3 linked regions of the Homo sapiens genome follow. The protein of the gene in region 1 purifies or fractionates together with the protein of each later gene. This does not show direct contact. Each region holds a gene or a part of one and is shown in the gene's direction. Other genes may lie near its edges.

Region 1 (7,105 bases):
TTCAGCTTTGAAGAGGCCTTGCTCATAATTTGCATCTCACATCCAAAAGTCAATACTGTCATTACCTGTTGGGGAGTGTTTTTTTAGTGCTGAGACTTTCTGCGGATTAATTCATTTAATCCTCACAATAACCCCACAGAACAAGTTCAGTTCCCATCACTCCTTTTTAGATGAGGATATGAAGATGGGAGAGGTTAATTAAGGTGCCGGAGGAAGTGGAAGAGGCCACATTCAGTCCTGAGCAGCCTGACTGCAGGATCCGAAGGCTGGTGTGTTTTGCTGTGCCAGGTGCAGAGGCCATTAAGACAACCCTGTGTAGAACTTAGAAGACAGGGCCCCATTGGCACCGCAGCTCTCTCTCAGTCTTGAGGCACCCACACTTGATGCTACGGGGAGCTTCCTCCTTGTCAAGCTTCAGTCTAACACCAGTTCATCACACAGGGCCTTACCAAGCCTGCTACAGAGCATCCTTTACCACCCGTGCCCAGCCCCTCCTTTATGAACTCCACAGTGCTTTCCCCTCTCTGCTGCAGATTTCCTGGTGGACTGTGGGGGAAGGGAGGGGCTGGGCCACTGCTAGAGCAGGAAGCCAGCTGCACCCACACCTCTGGCCAGTCCTCTCCACTCCTCTGTGCTGCGGTGCTTAGCGGTTAATGGGCATCTCTCTGATAGGCCCCTGTGACTCGCAGCCCTGCCAGAATGGAGGCACATGTGTTCCAGAAGGACTGGACGGCTACCAGTGCCTCTGCCCGCTGGCCTTTGGAGGGGAGGCTAACTGTGGTAGGTATGCACCGGCCCTGCAAGACTGACCACTGGGGAGCAAGAAGAGGACGGGCTCCCCTTTTCATTGCACGCCCTTCCAGCTGCTGGGTAGAAACTGGCCCTTGAACCATCTGCTTTCCAATGCACCACTGGTCTGCAGTTCACGTGGTGCAGCCTGTCAGTGCTCCGTGAGTAGATAATTGGGGTGGCTGAGCTCTGGATGAGACAGTGGCTCCCAGCTTATTAGCTGCAGAATGGTCACTGCTTGAAGTTTGAGTGCTGCCCAGCCCAGCTGAAGGCAGGAGTCCACCCAACTCTGGCTCCCAGTCCTGGGCAGAGTCTTTTCTTCTCTATTCTATGAAAGCAGAGCAAGGAGCCCCGATTCCTTTTGATTTTAGAGGTGTGAAATGAAGATGATAGTAGGCTTTACCTCACTGGGTGGTTGAGAGTTTTAAATAAGATTATGCAAAGTGCTTAGTACCATGCTTGACGCATATAAGGGCTTGATGAATAATAACTTTTAAAAACAAGTGATACTGGGTTAGTTGAAGATCTGTATGAAAACAATCTTGACCCTGTACCTCACAACCCTACCAGAAGTCAATTCTAGCGTGGCTATAGACCTCTGTGCAAAAGGCAAAGCAGTGAAGCCTGTAGAAGCAAACACAGGAGCATATATTTTCATGATCTTGAGGCAGACAAAGATTTCTCAGGACACACACAGGACTAACCATAATGGAAAAAAGTGATAATGTAGATGGCATTTTTCTTTAAAAAGTGGCTAGATGGAGACCCTTAGCGAGTGCCAGGAGTGCCATGTCTGGCCTTGTCTCTAACTCTGTGACGAGCACGGGTCACTTAAGCTTGGGGGGCCCACAGTTTCTCTGCACCATCTCCCTCCTGGGAGATGTTCGGCATCTCGGGTGGGACAGCTCGCATGCCGCATGACCATGGCTTGACAGTGGGTGTTGCTGTGATCCCCGCAGCCCTGAAGCTGAGCCTGGAATGCAGGGTCGACCTCCTCTTCCTGCTGGACAGCTCTGCGGGCACCACTCTGGACGGCTTCCTGCGGGCCAAAGTCTTCGTGAAGCGGTTTGTGCGGGCCGTGCTGAGCGAGGACTCTCGGGCCCGAGTGGGTGTGGCCACATACAGCAGGGAGCTGCTGGTGGCGGTGCCTGTGGGGGAGTACCAGGATGTGCCTGACCTGGTCTGGAGCCTCGATGGCATTCCCTTCCGTGGTGGCCCCACCCTGACGGGCAGTGCCTTGCGGCAGGCGGCAGAGCGTGGCTTCGGGAGCGCCACCAGGACAGGCCAGGACCGGCCACGTAGAGTGGTGGTTTTGCTCACTGAGTCACACTCCGAGGATGAGGTTGCGGGCCCAGCGCGTCACGCAAGGGCGCGAGAGCTGCTCCTGCTGGGTGTAGGCAGTGAGGCCGTGCGGGCAGAGCTGGAGGAGATCACAGGCAGCCCAAAGCATGTGATGGTCTACTCGGATCCTCAGGATCTGTTCAACCAAATCCCTGAGCTGCAGGGGAAGCTGTGCAGCCGGCAGCGGCCAGGTAAGGTCCCAGTGCCTGACCCAGGACCGCTGGTCAGTGGGCGGGTCCTTCCTCCTTTTGGCCACCACCTAACCATCATTTTCTGCCAGTGCCTCTTCTAGGGGCTGAAACCACAGCCCCACTCTTTCAGGCACCAGTCACATAAATAATTTTCAGTTTACCTGTCAACAAAATGGGACTAATAGTAGTACCTCCTGAGAGATCTTTAGTGAGAATTAGGTAAGATGGGCAGTGTACATGCTTAGTACAGAGTAAGCACTCAGCAAACTCTAGGTGTTGCTGTTATCATTCTTAATCACGATTTTATTGTTGTTGTTACTAAGAGCTCTGAATCTACTAAGCAGGCTCCAGAGCAGCAGCTTCCCAGCTCCTTTGATGGCAATCCACAGAAAAGTGTGTTCCTGGTGCACACATGCACATGTATGCACACATACACACACGGATGCATGTGCATGCACACGCGCTGGTGCAGCCACACACAACTGAAACAAACGCTTCCTGAGAGGATACTTACCCTGTCTACTTGGGATGCATTCTGACATTTTTCTCTTCTGTTCTGTTTTGCAAGCCATGAAGCTGATTTTTTATGACCCCTATTGGAAGGCACTCTAGAGAACACTGTCCCCACGCAGAGGCCTGGCCCATGGCCAGAGATGTAGTAGCTGAAACACGTCTTTTTTTTCTTTTGAGACAGGGTCTTGCTCTGTTACCCAGGCTGGAATGCAGTGGCACGATCATAGCTCACTGCAGCCTTGAACTCCTGGGCTCACGTGATCCTTCCACCTCAGCCTCCAGAATAGCCAGGACTACAGGTGCACACCACCATGCCCAGCTAATTGTTTTATTTTTTAGAGAGATGTGGTCTTGCTATGTTGCCCAGGCTGGTCTCGAACTCCTGGGCTCAAGCAATCCACCCACCTCAGCCTCCCAAAGTGGAGGGATTACAGGCTTGAGTGAAATGTAAGCCTTTATAGGGCTCCTGGAGTTCTCCCCTTGGTAGGTGGGCATGGGAAGCTACAGATGTGATTCTGCTTCTCAGCCCTGATGCCACCACTCTCCCCAAGGCGAGAGGCTTTCCCTCCTGTAAGGCGGAAGGACAGGGATTGGCTGCCCACTCCCACCCTGCCCCTCCAGGCTGGTCTAAGTGCTTTTGTTCTGCTGCTTTGTTTGGTTGGATTTTTTAAAAAAAATAATAGTTGTAGATTTATAGGAAAAAATAATTGACAATAGTGGAGAGTTCCCTATACCCCACACCCAGTTTCCCCTCCTATTAACACCTTGCATTAGTATGGCACAGTGTTATCATTAATGAACCAGTATTGATACATCATTATTTAGTGAATCCATGCTTATTTATATTTGTTTAGTTTTTACCTAATGTCTTTTTTGTGTTCCAGAATCCCATCCAGGACCCCACAGTACATGTAGTCAGCCGCCTTCCCCGTAGCTGTGATAGTTTCTCAGACGTTCCTGGTGTGGGAGTGGTTTTAAAAACCAGTAATCAGAGCATCAGCTCCTCTAACTCCATACTTAGAATTTCCAGTGGTTCCCCTTTGCACTTGGAATAAAACCCAAACTCCTTCCCCTGGCTTCTGAGAGCTCCCTGTGGCCTGGTCCCCACAGGCCTCTCTGCATCCCCTGCACAGGAGAGGCCTTCTGGCTCATACTTACTTGTCTTTCAGTTCTTAGGTGAAATGTCACCTCCCCAGAGAAGCTCTGACCCCTTCTCCCAGTCTTGTTATGTTCCCCTACTGGTCTCTCTCGAAGTCCCCTGCTTTTCCCTCCACGCTGCCGACATCATTTGTAATTCTATGTTCATTTCATGTCTGTTCCCCTAGACTGTCAGCCTGTTGACAGCAGGCATGGGCCCATTTTGTCCATACAGCATCTAATTAGTGCCCTGCATACTGGGGATGGATGAAGGCACAGGTGAAGATGTTGTCACAAAGGGTTGCCCACAAACCCAAACCCCATGGGTTACATAAGACAGGAACTTATTTCTCTCACATACAGTTCAGAGGTGAGTGGCCCGGGCCAGCAGGGCTTGGTCATCTTATGGCTTCCACCTTGAGGTCCAAGGTCACCATTTCTCAGCCAGCAGGAAGGGGGAGAGGGGAAGTGGAAGGTAAGCAGCTTCCAGCTGCATGAGTTTGAAATTGATCACGTCCGTCAGATAGAACTTAGACACGTGGCCACCCTAGCTGCCAGGAAGTCTGGGAAATGTGGTCTGGCAGGCACTCATCTTCCTGCTAATATTCTAGGAAAGTGCTGTTCTGTGGCTAAAAGGAAGACATAGAGGGTGTATTCTGCAGTGAACAGAGCACCCTGGCTGACCTTGGTCCTACCCAACCTGGCAGTCCCTGGGTCCCGTCGAGGGGCTCTGACTGGCACATCCACTGCTGAAGCCCCTCTGCTTGCTCCTGCAGGGTGCCGGACACAAGCCCTGGACCTCGTCTTCATGTTGGACACCTCTGCCTCAGTAGGGCCCGAGAATTTTGCTCAGATGCAGAGCTTTGTGAGAAGCTGTGCCCTCCAGTTTGAGGTGAACCCTGACGTGACACAGGTCGGCCTGGTGGTGTATGGCAGCCAGGTGCAGACTGCCTTCGGGCTGGACACCAAACCCACCCGGGCTGCGATGCTGCGGGCCATTAGCCAGGCCCCCTACCTAGGTGGGGTGGGCTCAGCCGGCACCGCCCTGCTGCACATCTATGACAAAGTGATGACCGTCCAGAGGGGTGCCCGGCCTGGTGTCCCCAAAGCTGTGGTGGTGCTCACAGGCGGGAGAGGCGCAGAGGATGCAGCCGTTCCTGCCCAGAAGCTGAGGAACAATGGCATCTCTGTCTTGGTCGTGGGCGTGGGGCCTGTCCTAAGTGAGGGTCTGCGGAGGCTTGCAGGTCCCCGGGATTCCCTGATCCACGTGGCAGCTTACGCCGACCTGCGGTACCACCAGGACGTGCTCATTGAGTGGCTGTGTGGAGGTGAGTGGGGGAATCCACACCCTCAGGGCTGCCCCCATGGCAGGCCCTCAGCCTGAGCCTTCACATACATCATGACGAGGATGGCAGCTCTTCCCAGCTACTGAGCACTTGCTTCCCAAGTGCCAGGTTCTGTGCTAAACCCCATGCTCACATAAAATCCTACAGTAGGCATAACCATCCTATTTGACATTTAAGGTACAGAAAGTTTAACTAACATAGATAACTCCCCCCAAACTTGAGAATTTATGCATTCCCTTTAAACAGAACACACTTTTAGAATATCCACAAGCTTCCTAAGGGTCTAAAGATCCCACATTCACACTGACTTGGGCAGTGACAGAGCCCAGAGCAAACAGGGCCAGGCCAGCCCAAATCCAGTGACCTCCTCTTCACCTTCTTAAAAGAGACAGGAGAATCACTTGAACCCGGGAGGTGGAGGTTGTGGTGAGCCAAGATCGCGCCATTGTACTCCAGCCTGGGCAACAAGAGCAAGATTCTGCCTCAAAAAAAAAAAAAAAAAAGTCTGCCATGTGTATGGCACGTCTGAGCAATGGACTCTCCATGAGTCTGTAGGAGAGCTGGGTCTTACTAACCTAGCCAAGTGGTATGCAGCACCAACCATGAGCTACCGGGGCAAAGGGAGACATGACTCTAGTAGCCTTGCACCTCTACTGGGCTTACTTAGGGTAGGGGTCTTCGGGTCTAACCCATGCCTGGCCGGCCTGGTGGGTATGGTGTTCTCCATTGTAGAAGCCAAGCAGCCAGTCAACCTCTGCAAACCCAGCCCGTGCATGAATGAGGGCAGCTGCGTCCTGCAGAATGGGAGCTACCGCTGCAAGTGTCGGGATGGCTGGGAGGGCCCCCACTGCGAGAACCGTGAGTGGAGCTCTTGCTCTGTATGTGTGAGCCAGGGATGGTATTGCGAGTCCTGCCAAGTCCCACAAACTCAGCTGAAGGCAGGTTCTAAAACATTCGTTCAGTGGAAGAAATTATTCAGTCGTTTACCCACGAAACATTTAGTGAGTACCTCCTGCATCCCAGGCATTGTTCTCAGTGCAGGAACATAGCAGTAAACAAATGAATAAAACCTCTGCCCTCATGGAGCTTCCATTCTAATGGGAAGACAGACAATAAGCAAATAATACAACATGTGGTGTGGTAGACGGTGCTAAGCACCCCGGAGAAAGTCATGACAACTAGGAGGGAGGCCACAGTTAGGAGCACAGTAGATCCAGGGTACAGGGATGTAGACGGAGGCAGGGATGGGTAAATGCGGTGGTGGGAGCTGCTGGAAGCTCTTTTTGGGGTGCTATTTGCTCAGTAAAATGGGAGGAACAGCTAAGTGAGGACGAGGAGGAGGTGCTAGAGGTTTGAGAGAAAAGAAGTCATTGTCAAGGGTAACAGATTAGGACCTAGAGAGTGATCGTTGGGAGGCATTAGAGGTCCAACTATGGCTCCTGTTCATGAGTTTGAAGTTAGAACAGCCAGAAATCAGAAGACAAGTCCAGTCGGAGCCTTGGTTTTTTGGCCACGGGCAGAGGTTGGCTTCCTAAGGCCAGAGAGAAGCTCTGGAGGATAATCACATGGGGTCTCTAATCTGGCATCTTCTGCTGGGGGCGAGGTGGGTTGTAGAGTAAGAGCAGGACCTGAAGGGGTCCTCAGAGGCTGCTGGAGGGCTGAGAAGGGGATGCAGACACTCCTGTCCTCAGACTTCACTTCCTTCCCCAGGATTCTTGAGACGCCCCTGAGGCACATGGCTCCCGTGCAGGAGGGCAGCAGCCGTACCCCTCCCAGCAACTACAGAGA
Region 2 (7,133 bases), on another chromosome or scaffold:
GTGAGAAAATCTATTTCAGTTGCTTAAGTGCCCAGTTCATGGTATTCTGCAACAGCAGCCTGGCAGACTAATACACCAGCATTCTCTTCACTAGTGTTCAAGAGTTCAACAAGTAGAGGAGCATCACCTCTGTCCACACAGTTTGGATATCTGTCCTCACCCAAATCTCATGTTGAATTGTGATCCCCAGTGCTAGAGGTGGGGCCTGGCAGAAGGTGTGTGGATCATGAGGCGGATCCCTCACGGCTCAGAGCTGTCTTTGTGATAGTGGGTTCCCGCGAGATCTGGTCATTTAGAAGCGTGTGGCACCTCTGGCCTCTCTCTCGCCTGCTCCTGCTCTCACTATGTGACTCGCCTGCTCCCTCTTCACCTGCTGCCATGAGTAAAAGCTCTCTGAGGCCTCCCCAGAAGCTGAGTGATGTGGGTGCTATGCTTCCTGTAACCCCTGCAGAACTGTGAGCCAATTAAATCTCTTTTTCTTTTTTATGGAGTCTCGCTCTGTTGCCCAGGCTGGAGTGCAGTGGCATGATCTCGGCTCACTGCACCCTCTGCCTCCCAAGTTCAAGCGATTCTCCTGCTTCAGCCTCCTGAGTGGCTGGGATTACAGGCACCCGCCACCACACCTGGCTATTTTTTTTGTACTTTTAGTAGAGATGGGTTTTCACCATATTGGCCAGGCTGGTCTTGAACTCCTGACCTTGTGACCCGCCCACCTCGGCCTCCCAAAGTGCTGGGATTACAGGCGTGAGCCACCCAACCCGACCTCACAGCTGCTTCTCACACGGCACCTAGAAGCAGGGGCCTCCTGCTCTCCCACTGCGGGGTTTTCAGTCAGGTCGGGCTGGGTGGTGAGGAGAGTCAGAGCGGAATGAGGAAGATGCTGGTGGGAGAGTGTGGTGTGACAGGCAGGAAGAGGACAAGGCAGGCAGAAGCAGCCTGGGAGGAACCTGGAAGATGGGCACTGGCAAGAAAAGTGGTGGGCGGTCCCCAGAAACGAGTTTGAGAACCCCAGGCTCTGGCCGGGCACGGTGGCTCACACCTGCAATCCCAGCACTTTGGGAGGCCACGGTGGGTGGATCACCAGAAGTCAGGAGTTTGAGACCAGCCTGGCCAACATAGTGAAACTTCAGCTCTACAAAAAATACAAAAATTATATGGGCGTGGTGGTGCATGTCGGTAATCCCAGCTATTCAGAGGCTGAAGCAGGAGAATTGCTTGAAACCAGGAGACAGAGGTTGCAGTGAGCCGAGATTGCACCACTGAACTCCAGCCTGGGGGACAGAGACTCTGTCTCACAAAAAAAAAAAAAAAAAAAAAAAAAGAGGCCGGGTGCAGTGGCTCACACCTGTAATCCCAGCACTTTAGGAGTCTGAGGCAGGCAGATCATGAGGTCAGAAGTTCACGACCAGCCTAGCCAACATGGTGAAACCCCGTCTCTATAAAAAATACAAAAATTAGCCAGGTGTGGTGGTGTGCACCTGTAATCCCAGCTACTCGGGAGGCTGAGGCAGGAGAATTGCTTGAACCCGAGAGGCGGAGGTTGCAGTGAGCCGAGATCATGCCACTGCACTCCAGGCTGGGGGTCAGAGCGAGATTCTGTCTCGGGAAAACAAAAAACAAAAAAAACCCTCCCGGAAACACAGCACCCCAGGCTCTGTTGGAAGGGAATGTGGGGCCCAGGTGCTGCTCTATCCCCTCCTCAGTCCCCTGGATCCCAGCTTGATTCCTCCACTATTCTGCCTCAGTGAGGAGTTGCTGAAGCACTGGGGGCTTCCAGAACACAGGGGTGCCTCCCTCTCCCAGGCTCAGAGGCACGGTTCTGTCATCCGACAGTCCAACCAGCAGAGCTCGTAGGAGGCAGGTCCCTTCAAACACCACCTCACCCTTTCCTCTCCAGGGCTGCTGGCCTAGCAGGCCTGCCAGGGTGGGGAAGGTGGACACAGAGGCCTGTGGGAGACACAAGGAGGCACAGCCTCTTGAGCAGGCAGGAAGTCTCCAAGTCCAGAGAGCACATCCTATTCCTGCATACAACATCCAGGAAGCTTGCCTGGGCTTGTCTCACATTTCCCTCTTGGCTGGTTAGTTTCAGGGTCATGGCTAGGATATGCCTGATATGGAGAAGCTTCTCTTGCTGGGGAAAGGTACTGACACCTCCACACAACTCACGCAGAATTTTTTTTTTTTTTTTTTTTTTTGATACAGAGTCTCATGCTGGAGTGCAGTGGTGTGATCTCGGCTCACTGCAAGCTCCGACTCCCTGGTTCAAGCAATTCTCCTGCCTCAGCCTCCCAAGTAGCTGGGATTACAGGCACATGCCACCACACCCAGCTAATTTTTGTATTTTTAGTAGAGACCGGGTTTCACAATGTTAGCCAGGATGGTCTTGATCTCCTAACCTCATGATCCGCCCGCCTCGGCCTCCCAAAGTGCTGGGATCACAGGTGCGAGTCACCGTGCCTGGCCAACTAATGAAAAGTTTAAAGAATTTATATCTAGTTTTGGATGTTAGGCATGCACACACAAGTGCATGCACACTCATACACATCATCTCCACAAGCCCCATCCTGGCTCAGCCCTATTCTGATGGGTCAGCAGGACCCCAAGGAGAGAAGGGTGGGTCCTTGGCACTAAGACAGTTCACAGTGGTTAGCTGACTCCTTCTTGCCTCCATTCTTTCAGGAACTGCATATAGTACAGAACATGACAGCGATTCGAAAAACAATATCCCAGCTGGCTGTGATGGCTCATGCCTGTAGTCCCAGCACTTCGGAAGGCTGAGGTGGGATAATCACTTGAGCCCAAGAGTTCAATAGTAGCCTGGGCAGCATAGCCAGATCCTATCTCTACAAAAATTAAAAAGATTAGCCACGCGCGGTGGCATTCGCCTGTAGTTCCAGGTACTCCAGAGGCTGAGGTGGGAGGACTGCTTGAGTCCAAGAGGTCGAGGCTGAAGTGAGCGGTGAGTGTGCCACTGCACTCCAGCCTGAGAAACAGAGCAAGACCCTGTCTCAAGTGGGAAAAAAAAAAAAAGGAATCCCTGCCCTTTCAGCCTCTCCTGTAAACAGGGATTACAGGCACGAGCTACCTCATCGGGCCTTAGTTTTTGAAGCTAGCAGAGGCCAAGATACAACAGCCTTCTAAAACAGGACCAGGGACTGGTGCTTATAAGCAGGGAATGCGGCAGAGTACGATGGCTCACGCCTGTCATCCCAGCACTTCGGGAGACCGAGGTGGGCGATCACCTGAGGTCAGGAGTTGGAGACCAGCCTGGCCAATATGGTGAAACCCCGTCTCTAATAAAAATACAAAAAAAATTAGCCGGTCGTGGTGGGGCGCGCCTGTAATCCCTGCTGCTTGGGAGGCTGAGGCAGAATTGCTTGAACCTGGGAGGTGGAGGTTGCAGTGAGCCGAGATCGCGCCTCTGCACTCCAGCCTGAGTGACAGAGCGAGACTTCGTTTAAAAAAATAAAAATAAATATATATTTTTAAAAGCGGGGAATGCAGCCTAAGTCTCTTTCCTTCCTTCCTTTTTTTTTTTTTTTCTTTTTTTGAGACGCAGTCTCGCTCTGTCGCCAGGCTGGAGTGCAGTGGCGCGATCTCGGCTCACTGCAACCTCGGCCTCCTGGGTTCAATAGATTATTCTGCCTCAGCCTCCAGAGCAGCTGGGGTTACAGGCACGCGCCACCACGCCCGGCTAATTTTTGTATTTTCAGTAGAGATGGGGTTTCACCATGTCGGCCAGGATGGTCTTGAACTCTTCCTGACTCAGGTGATCCGCCCGCCTCGGCCTCCCAAAGTGCTGGGATTGCAGGCCTGAGCCCCCGCACCCGGCCGCCGCAATTACTTCTGCACCAGCCTAATACCTCAAGTCCAGGAGCCTCAGGCCCCGCGTCTATTTCCTCCGACTGCGGCGCGGCTGATACTGCCTGAGGCGGGTGGAAGCTGTCGCGCGTCCGGACGCGACCAGTTCCCGCCCAGCAGCCGGTGCGCAGGCGCGGGCAGGGAGGGCGGCTGTGCGGGGCGCTCGCGGGCTTCAGCGAGGCGGGAGGGCGGCCCTGTTGCCCTGGAGACGCTTTCCCTGCTGCCGGCCGCGACCGCAACCCGCTAGGCCTTCATCGCGAGCTACGCCCGGACCGAGAAGCCCCGGCATGGCCACGTCCATCGGAGTGTCCTTCTCGGTGGGCGACGGGGTGCCTGAGGCTGAGAAGAACGCAGGGGAGCCCGAGAACACCTATATTCTGCGGCCTGTTTTCCAGCAGAGGCGGGTAGAGGACGGGCTGTGGCGGGGCGACCTCGAGCGCGCTGGTCTGAGGGGCGGAGCTCGCCTGGGACCTGGGCCACGGAAGGAGCGCGGGGGACGCGCGGGGTCCGCGGGGCGGGAGGCGGGAGGCCGCGAGGCGGGCGGGCGGCCCTGCTGTGACGTCCGGGCGCCCCTCCCGCTGCAGGGGCCGCAGGGGACCCCACCCGCTTCCTCAGTGTTTGGGCGCCGGGCGCGTCTTAGGGTGGCGCGGCGGGAATGGTTGGCCCTGGGAAACCCGCGATGGCGTCCTGAGTAAGGAGATGGGTAGAATAGAGGCAGGAAGCCACTCGCGTCGGATGCCGTTCAGCCGTGATTCGAGGGTGACTGTGCACACGGGTGCCAGGATGGGCTCACTCCCGGCGCGGGAGCTGCATCTGTGCGAAGTCCTACCCGGGTGGGATCTGGAGGCCCTTAGACCACCGCAGCGAGCCCTCGCTAGGATTAAGGCTCACGGGCCAGAGCAGAGGGTACTCAGCTAGGTTTGTGAGATCACTAACTTTACACACACACACACACACACACACACACACTGAAAAAAATATCAGGCTCACGGGCCAGAGCAGAGGGTACTCAGCTAGGTTTGTGAGATCACTAACTTTACACACACACACACACACACACACACACACACTGAAAAAAATATCAGGCTCACGGGCCAGAGCAGAGGGTACTCAGCTAGGTTTGTAAGATCACTAACTTTACACACACACACACACACAACACACACACACACTGAAAAAAAATGTCAGGCTCACGGGCCAGAGCAGAGGGTACTCAGCTAGGTTTGTAAGATCACTAACTTTACACACACACACACAACACACACACACACACACACACACACACTGAAAAAAAATGTCAGGCTCACGGGCCAGAGCAGAGGGTACTCAGGTTTGTAAGATCACTAACTTTACACACACACACACACACACACACACCACACACACACCACACAACACACACACACACACACACACACTGAAAAAAATGTCAGGCTCACGGGCCAGAGCAGAGGGTACTCAGCTAGGTTTGTGAGATCACTAACTTTACACACACACACACACACCACACAACACACACACACACCACACAACACACACACACACACACTGAAAAAAATGTCAGGCTCACGGGCCAGAGCAGAGGGTACTCAGCTAGGTTTGTAAGATCACTAACTTTACACACACACACACACCCCATATTTGCTTGGCAAATATGGAAAACAGGAATTTTGATTATAATGTGATACAAATTTCTTTGTTTATTTTTATTCTCTTGGTAACTCACAGAAAAAGTGATACAAATTTCATACAGGATTTTTCCCTTGGGTAGAATGAACACAGAGAAAGATACCCTCAGTTATCTTGGTAAAAGGTTCTGAATGCCCAGAATGCCATTCAGCCGTATTTTTTTATTTTATTTTATTTTATTTTATTTTGTGAAAGCGTGCAGAACAAAATTAACAACAAGTATATATTTTGTTTTGGGGGAGAGGGGAGTATGAGAAGCTCATTATTGGATGTATTGAGTTGCCTAATAAACATTCATATGGAGCATGAGTTGGAATGTGTTGAAGTTCAGTGCAGGTCCAGGTTGAAGATACACATGTGGCCTATGATTTGTCTTAATTTGTTTATATTTTATAATAAAAAATATGAAAAAGAAGGATTAAGTGGTACTAATGACAAAAAGATGGGAGAAGTTGCGGTATGAAGGTAAGCTGGGGTTGTGGAGTCACCGACTGGATGTTCACAAATTGTTCCATTCAGGTTCAGGCCCTCTGTGGTTAAAGACTGTATCCATGCTGTGCTCAAGGAGGAACTGGCAAATGCTGAATATTCTCCAGAAGAAATGCCTCAGCTTACAAAACATTTATCAGAAAACATTAAAGATAAATTAAAAGGTAATCATGGTGATAACTGGAAATGACTCATTCTCTTCACAGAGTCAGTATTACCCATTTGCCCCCTCTCCATCTTTAAACAAAGGACATTGGGGCCAGGTGTGGTGGCTCACGCCTACAATCCCAACACTTTAGCATGCCAAGGCAGGAAGATTGCTTGAGCTCTGGAGTTCAGTACCAGCCTAGGCAACATGGTGAGGCCTCATGTCTATTTTTCTTTTTTTTGAGATGGAGTTTCACTCTTGTTGCCCAGGCTGGAGTGCAATGGCATGATCTTGGCTCACTGCAAACTCCGCCTCCCGGGTTCAAGTGATTCTTCTGCCTCAGCCTCCTGAGTAGTTGGGATTACAGGCATGCACCATCACGCCTGGCTAATTTTGTATTTTTAGTAGAGACGGGGTTTCTCCATGTTGGTCAGGCTGGTCTCAAACTCCTGACCTCAGGTAATCCACCCGCCTCGGCCTCTCAAGGTGCTGGGATTACAGACATGAGCCACCGCGCCCAGCCGACCTCATGTGTATTAAAAAGCAAAATAAAGGCCGGGCGCAGTGGCTCACGCCTGTAATCGCAGCACTTTGGGAGGCTGAGGCGGGTGGATCACGAGGTCAGGAGATTGAGACCATCCTGGCTAACACGATGAAACCCTGTCTCTACTAAAAATACAAAAAATAGCTGGGTGTGGTGGCACACGCCTGCAGTCCCAGCTGCTTGGGAGGCTGAGGCAGGAGAATCACTTGAACCCAGGAGGTGGAGGTTGCAGTGAGCTGAGATCGCGTCACTGCACTCCAGCCTGGGTGACAGAGTGAGACTCTGTCTCAAAAAAAAAAAAAAGCAAAATAAAAAAATAAAACATCTCTATTAAAAAAACGTAAATAGAATGTTAGCTGTGGATTCTATTAAAGACAACTTTTTCTTCAGTGTCTTGTCTTC
Region 3 (7,654 bases), on another chromosome or scaffold:
TTAAATATTTAAAGGATGCTGGGCTGGGCACGATGGTTCATGCCTGTAATCCTAGCTCTTCGGGAGGCCAAGGGGAAAGGATCATTTTAGCACCAGCCTGGGCAACAAGGCAAAACCCTGTCTCTACTTAAAAAAAAAAAAAAAAAAAATTAGCCAGGCATGGTGGCTTGCACCTGTAGTCTCAGCTACTGGGCTGGGGAAGCGGAGGTGGAAGGATCGCTTGAGCCCAGGAGTTCTAGGCTGCAGAGAGCCATGACTGCCCTACTACACTCCAGCCTGGGCGACAGAGTGAGACACTGTCACAAAAAACAAACAAACAAACAAACAAAAACCCTCTAGAATTCTATGATTCTGACCCAATAATTAATTATTAACGATTTGTTAATAAATGTAATTAATTCCTAGCTGGGCACGGTGGCTCACATCTGTAATCCCAGCACTTTGGGAGACTGAGGTGGATGGATCACTTGAGGTCAGGAGTTCGAGACCAACCTGGCCAACATGGTTATACCCATTCTCTACTAAAAATACAAAAATTAGTTGGGTGTGGTGGCATGGGCCTGTAATCCCATCTATTCGGGAGGCTGAGAAAGGAGAATTGCTTGAACCCGGGAGGCAGAGGTTGCAGTGAGCTGAGATCGCCCCACTGCACTCCAGCCTGGGCGACAGAGCAATACTGTCTCAAAAAACAAAAAAAAAAAAAAAGAAAGAAAATGTAATTAATTCCTAAAGTTTCAGAATATGGGTCCATGGGGAAAAGGTTCTAACTGATAAAAATGTGGGAAATGGGATAAAAAATGAAGTTAAAAAAAAAAGGATACTGGTTCTCAAAACTTCTTGTTTGATCATAAAGATTTAGAAGTGGTTTCTTAGATGAACTATACTAGCAAAATAATTGAGATACTACTTTCAGGAAAAACGTATCTGCCTACTTTTTCAATTTAAACACTCTGTAATGTGTTGTTTGTTTGCTTGTTTTGTTTTCAATATCAAGATCCTGGGTAACATTCAATTATGTTTATATTTATTTGCCTGTCACTTATCATTAAGAGGGTTCATAATGAAGACTTTCTTCCAGGAGTTACTGACTAGGCAATTGAAATTTTGTAGTTCAGCTTTTGTGTGTTGTTTTCTCTGAATGCATAAGTATTTTTCTTAGAAATGTTTCCTCGGCTGGGTGCAGTAGCTCATGCCTGTAATCCCAGCACTTTGGGAGGCCATGGCGGGAGGATCACTTGAGGTCAGGGGTTTGAGACCAGCCTGGCCAACATGGTGAAACTTCGTCTCTACTAAAAATACAAAAATTAGCCGAGTGTGGTGGCACACAAATTAGCTGAGTGTGGTGGCACCTGCCTGTAATCTCAGCTACTCAGGGGGCTGAGGCAGAATTGCTTGAACCCAGGAGGCAGAGGTTGCAGTGAGCTGAGATTGCGCCATGTACTCCAGCCTGGGTGACAGAGTGACTCCGTCTCAAAAAAAAAAGAAAGCCAGGCACAGTGGCTTATGCCTGTAATCCCCAGGACTTTGGGAGGCCAAGGCAGGCAGGCGGATCACGAGGTCGAGACCAGCCTGACCAACATGGTGAAACCCTGTCTCTACTAAAAATACAAAAACTAGCTGGGCATGGTGGTGTATGCTGTAGTCCCAGCTACTCTGGGGGCTGATGCAGGAGAGTCGCTTGAACCCAGGAGGAGGAGGTTCAGAGTGCCAAGATCGCACCACTGCACTCCAGCCTGGGCGACACAGTGAGACCCCATCTCAAAAAAAAAAAAAAAAAAAGGAAAAAAAGAAAAGAAAAGAAAAAAAAGAAATGTGTATCTTCAAGCTCTCGCTTCTTTTATCTTGAACTGGACAAGATTTTGTATTCCCAGAAATATGGTTTAAATTTTGTTTATTTTTAATTTTTATAGTTACATAATAGTTGTAGATATTTCTGGAGTAAATACAATGTGTAATGATCAAATCTGGGTAATTGGGATATCCATCACCTTAGAAATGCATTATTATTATTAAGACACAGGGTCTTACTCAGTCACCCAGGCTGGAGTGCAGTAGTGTGATTATAGCTCATGGTAGCCTCGGACTTTGAGCTCAAACTATCTTCTCACTTCAGCCTCTCAAGTAGCTAGGACTGCAGGTGTGTCTCACCGTGTCTAATTTTTTATTCTTGTTTTTGTAGAGAGGGAGTCTCACTATGTTGCCTAGGCTAGTCTCTAACTCATGGCCTCATGTGAGCCTCTGGCCTAAGCCTCCCAAAGTGCTGGGATTTCAGGCATGAGCCACTGTGCCCACCCATTTATTATTTCTTTTCTTTTTTTTTGAGACGCGGTCTCGCTCTGTCACCAGGCTGGAGTGCAGTGGCCCAATCTCGGCTCACTGCAACCTCCGCCTCCCGGGTTCAAGTGATTCTCCTGCCTCAGACTCCCGAGTAGCTGGGACTACAGGCGCACACCACCACACTCGGCTAATTTTTGTATTTTTAGTAGAGACAGGGTTTCACCATGTTGGCCAGGATGGTCTCGATCTCTTGACCTCTTGACCTCGTGATCTGCCCGCCTCGGCCTCCCAAAGTGCTGAGATTACAGGCATAAGCCACCACGCTTGGCCTGCCATTTACTATTTCTTTGTGTTGGGAACATTCTGAATCTTCTCTTCTAGCTGTTTGGAAATATAGAATAGATTATTGTTAACTATAGTCACCCAATTATGCTATTGAGCACTAGAATTTATTCCTGCTACATAACTGTATTTTTGTACCCATTAACCTCTTTATCCCCCCTTTGCCCTCCACTACACTTTCTAGCCTCTGGTAACCACCATTCTATTCACTACCTCCACGAGATCAATTCTTTTAGTTCCCACATATGTGTGAGAACGTGCAATATTTGTCTTTTTGTGCTTGTCTTGTTTCACTTAACATAATGTCCTCCCGTCCCATCCATGTTGCTGCAAATGACAGGATTTCATTCTTTCTTAATGGGTGAATAAGATTGTATTGTGTGGCCGGGCGCGGTGGCTCACGCCTGTAATCCCAGCACTTTGGGAGGCCGAGGCGGGTGGATCACGAGGTCAGGAGATCAAGACCATCCTGGCTAACACGGTGAAACCCCGTTTCTAATAAAAATACAAAAAAAAAAAAAAAAATTAGCCGGACCTGGTGGCGGGCGCCTGTAGTCCCAGCTACGCGGGAGGCTGAGGCAGGAGAATGGCGTGAACCCGGGAGGCGGAGTTTGCAGTGAGTCGAGATGGCGCCACTGCACTCCAGCCTGGGCGACAGAGCGAGACTCCGTCTCAAAAAAAAAAAAAAAAAAAAAAGATTGCATTGTGTATATGTACCACATTTTCTTTATCCATTTGTCTGTTGATTGACATAGGTTGATTCTATATTTTGGCTATTGTGAATAGTACTGCAATAAGCATGGGAGTGCCAGAAATATTTTTGATGTTTATTCTCTTTACCAGACTGTTACCCCATTTTCCCCTTTTGGGAGGTCCAGCTCACTCTGGACTTTCGCCTCTGTGAGGATGATGTTCTTTTTTCTGTGAGACGGAGTCTCTCGCTCTGTCACCCAGGCCGGAGTGCAGTGGCATGATCTCGGCTCACTGCAACCTCCGTCTCCCAGGTTGAAGCGATTCTCCTGCCTCAGCCTACCAAGTAGCTGTGATTACAGGAGGCTTGCCAGCACACCCGGCTAATTTTTGTATTTTTAGTAGAGACGGGGTTTCACCATGTTGGCCAGGCTGGTCTCAAACTCCTGACCTCAGGTGATCCGCCCGCCTCGGCCTCCTAAAGTGCTGGAATTGCAGGCGTGAGCCACCGCGCCTGGCCGAGAATGATGTTCTTACAGGTTTGTGTAATTGTATTCTTCCTTATGGTTATACTTCCTGGATGCTTAATTAAGCTCGGTTGAACATCACGTATATTTGTGGAATAAGGGGCTTACAACCAACAGGAGTAGACAAAACCTGAACATATTAAATGTTAAGTAACTGAAAAATGCTTTCAAGGCAGATCAGCTTTGCAAAATGAGAAACCAGGAAGGGGACAAACAAACTACTGGAGTTTTCTGGGACGAAGTGGGACCTAGGAAAGCAGCGAAAGAAGGGTAGAAGGCAACATTAATTTCATTAACCTTTATTAATTATCGGGGAGGAGTATGAAGAGTCAATCCTAATGCGCAGTCTTCTCCATTTGCAGGCGACAATCCTGTTCGTGCTATTTTGGGACATGGGGTCACCGGCCAGCTAAGGGTCTACGTCCCTGCCACCAGTCTCACGCTATTGCCGCACCCGTTCTGCTACTCCCCCGGGCCCCTAGCCGGTCCCTCCAAGCCCGACCCCCGCCCGCCCCGCCCAGGCTTTGGTCCGCCCCGCCCAGGCTTTGGTCCGCCCCGCCCCTCCCCGCCCCAGCTTTGGGCCCGCCCCTCCACGCCCCTCCCCGCCCCGCCCCGCCCCGCCGACTCGCCCTTCGGCTCAGGCACCTGCCTGGCCGCCCCGCGCGGCGGGGTCCTGAGGCGCCTCGGGGAAGCGCGGCGATTGGCTGCCGCTCGCGGGTAGAGCTCGGCTCCCCGGCACTTGACAACCGCAGTCTGCAAGAGGCTGAGCTGAGGAGTCGCTGGGCCGGGAGGGGCGGACGTGAGAAGGACGGATTGACGAACTGATGGATTGACGCGCGGGCGGTAGGAGGGAGGACCGACGCCAAACCCAGACCGCCGCCGTCGTGCTCCTGCCGCAGCCCGGAGCCGGCCGCTTCGGGGCCCTGGCCGCCGGCCTCCCAGCCGCGTTCTCCTCCGCCGCTCCTCCGGGCTTGCCCTGGAGCCCTCAGGTGGGTGACTCCGGGAGTCGGAGGCTGGGTCGGTCCGCTGCACACCTCGGGTTGCCATGGTCACCCGTCGCCTCCTGTCACCACCTGACACGGCTCCGACCGGGCGGCCCCGAGGACTGTGTTTGCGGCCCCGGAGAGGGGTCTTTAGTGGGCTTGGGTGCCGACTGGGAGGGGGCTGGGGTCGTGGGTGAGGCCCCAGCATCGCGGGGTGAGGATCTGCGAACTGCTGGGCCCCGGTTCGAGGTCACCGGTCCTGGACCACACCTTTCCCACATTACCAGTTGGATTCTGGGGGCAGAGCGACGCCCCTCGCCCTGGCACTGAGCAGCAAGTGAGCGCGAGGTTCGTGCCCATCTCGCCGCTGCGCCGATTCTTCCTTCCTCGCCCCTTGGTCGAGCCCGTGCGAGAACTGAGGGGCGCGCTCGCGTCCCTTTCTGGGCACGCCTTGGCCCGGAGGAAGAGAGGGAGCGGCGGGGCTGGGAGCCCCGCTGGGGCCGGTTTTGGCCTTTCTCACATCAATGGTCGGGATGGGAGCAGGCCTTTGGGGATCTGGGTGTGGTCGCGGAAAGGGGCAGCGACTCGATTTAGAACTGGGATTGCGCTGGAGGGGCGCCTGCGTAGAAGAACGCAAGGTTGTGGAACTCAAAGGGTTAAACCGCTTCCCTTTATTGGGGAGAAAAATATTGGAACTCTAGCTCTGGGGCGAGGCCATGGGCAAAGGGGGCGGGGGCGGGGGGCGAGGGTAGGCCGGGGCGGCATTTGGGCTTTTGACCAGATGATTTTTCCTTCTCTGTACCCAGACGTGCAGTTAGTAACCGTGCATGGTATCTGAGGGGACCGTTTTTTTTTTTTGGCAACTTGGTTTTCTCTGCATAATGAAAGGAGAAGTCTTTGTTCCACCCAGATTCGTAGGTTGTGATCCTAATACTTATTTCTCTCTTTGTTGGAGACTCTGTAGAATGCCTCAAAAAGTTAATGGCACAGAAATGAACATGTAGGTTTAAAAAATGCTATAAATCTTTTTTTCACAGTAAATTCAAGTAGAATTTTTTTGTCTCCAGTGTTGGCATATGTTGCATTGGCATTTTACTAAGAAGGAGAAACGCCTAAGAGCCCATTTTCCTTTATATGGCATATTGTCGAGGTCTCATTTAGGAAGAAGATGAAATGAATAATTCTACTTTAGGTTTGGGAGATTAGGAGAGATTGCTTCCAATAGGAAAGAAACATTATTACACGGTAATGGAAAAGTCAAGTCACAACAGTATATTGTTAGGTAAAAAAGCCAAAACCCAAACACTTGAATTTGGATGCCATTATGAAGATGTAAATTTTTTTTTTTTTTTGGACGGGATTTTAACCTGTGTTTATCTCCCACTGGTCCACTTCCTGGTTCTTTTCTCCCTCGCCTTAAAAACCAGTACTGTTAAGAATGTGTCATAAGAGAACAGGGGTACTATCCTATGTTACTACTTACATAATGGTGTTCAACCTCTTTTCCTGTTTGTGAAATAGAATATATTAGTTATTTAATGGGCGGCATATGAAATGCTTAATGTATGCTGCAGTTTCAGAAACGCTTTAGTTATGAAAAGATGTGCAGTTTTCCTTAGTAGATCAGTAAGCTGAAAAATCAGATTACCTGTATTTAAGCTTTCTTTTGCTACTGATTGCATTCTTGTAAGAGCTGCTAAGCTTAACATTGACTGATTTCTCATTCTGTAAAATGGTGATGCTTGCTATTGTTTTAGTCTGAGAATGGGCTTTGAGTTGAAAGCACTTTGGAAGGCATCTGTTGATTACCTTTTTTTTTTTTTTTTTTTTTTGAGACGGAGTCTCACTCTGTCATCCAGGCTGGAGTTCAGTGGCATGATCTCGGCTCACTGCAGCCTCTGCCTCCTGGGTTCAAGCGATTCTCCTGCCTCAGCCTCCCAAGTAGCTGGGATTACAGGTGCCTGCCACCACGCCCGGCTACTTTTTGTATTTTTAGTAGAGATGGGGTTTCACCATGTTGGCTAGGCTGGTCTCGAACTCCTAGCCTCAGGTGATCCACCCGCCTTGGGCTCGCAATGTTGGGATTACAAGCTTGAGCCACCGTGCCTGACCCTGTATATTATTTTTGAACAGAAGACTTGAACCCAGGTCTTCAGACTCCAAATCCAATGCTGGCCCACACCTGAGGATACTTCAGTTTTGAGACTATTACACCGAATAGCCAAAGCTTGCATATTTCAACTAATTTTTCTCTATGTTGAGTTTGTTTCTGTTCAAGTGAAAAGATATCCTTAAAAAAGGGTTTATACCGGCTGGGCGTGGTGGCTTGTGCCAGTAATCCCAGCACTTTGGGAGGCCAAAGCGGGCGGATCACGTGAGGTCAGGAGTTTGAGACCAGCCTGGGCAACATGGTGAAACCCTGTCTTTATCAAAAATATAAAAATTAACTGGGCATGGTGGCGTGTGCCTGTAATCCCAGCTATTTGGGAGGCTGAGGTAGGAGAATTGCTTGAACACAGGAGGCAGAGGTTGCAGTGAGCCAAGATCATGCATGCCACTGCACTCCAGCCTGGGCGACAAAGCGAGATTCCACCTCAAAAAGAAAAAAAAAAAGGATTTATACCACACACTCCCTTAAAACCTTTCTTTTGTGTTCTATAGTCTTATTCACTGTAATAGCTCGATCATTGTATCCCAGTTTGTAGCATGTTGTTAATACATAGTAAATGCTCATCACTCATTACCCACCTGAACTTCTCCTGTTTAAATGGCTTCAGATGAATATTATCACAAGTAGGAGTTTCTTCATATAGTATGTTTAACATAATTGATCTC

What was found.
Region 2: the proteins of VWA2 (region 1) and DYNLT2B purify together in Homo sapiens (affinity purification with mass spectrometry; 2 studies listed by BioGRID and IntAct, with this or other methods). This does not show direct contact.
Region 3: the proteins of VWA2 (region 1) and WDR47 purify together in Homo sapiens (affinity purification with mass spectrometry; 2 studies listed by BioGRID and IntAct, with this or other methods). This does not show direct contact.

What each region holds. Positions count from the first base shown.
Region 1 is NC_000010.11:114,284,191-114,291,295, forward strand, and holds part of VWA2 (von Willebrand factor A domain-containing protein 2 precursor), read left to right. Parts: intron 1-672; coding exon 673-780; coding exon of another isoform or gene 781-784; intron 785-1,748; coding exon 1,749-2,321; intron 2,322-4,747; coding exon 4,748-5,299; coding exon of another isoform or gene 5,300-5,355; exon of another isoform or gene 5,356-6,043; intron 6,044-6,049; coding exon 6,050-6,175; intron 6,176-7,027; coding exon 7,028-7,047; 3' UTR 7,048-7,105.
Region 2 is NC_000003.12:196,315,168-196,322,300, reverse strand, and holds the start of DYNLT2B (dynein light chain Tctex-type protein 2B), read left to right. Parts: upstream 1-4,060; 5' UTR 4,061-4,148; coding exon 4,149-4,261; intron 4,262-4,709; exon of another isoform or gene 4,710-5,327; intron 5,328-5,458; exon of another isoform or gene 5,459-5,859; intron 5,860-6,069; coding exon 6,070-6,203; exon of another isoform or gene 6,204-6,216; intron 6,217-7,133. UniProt on the Homo sapiens protein: Acts as one of several non-catalytic accessory components of the cytoplasmic dynein 2 complex (dynein-2 complex), a motor protein complex that drives the movement of cargos along microtubules within cilia and flagella in concert with the intraflagellar transport (IFT) system.
Region 3 is NC_000001.11:109,039,033-109,046,686, reverse strand, and holds the start of WDR47 (WD repeat-containing protein 47), read left to right. Parts: upstream 1-4,584; 5' UTR 4,585-4,825; exon of another isoform or gene 4,826-5,167; intron 5,168-5,714; exon of another isoform or gene 5,715-5,737; intron 5,738-5,761; exon of another isoform or gene 5,762-5,819; intron 5,820-7,654.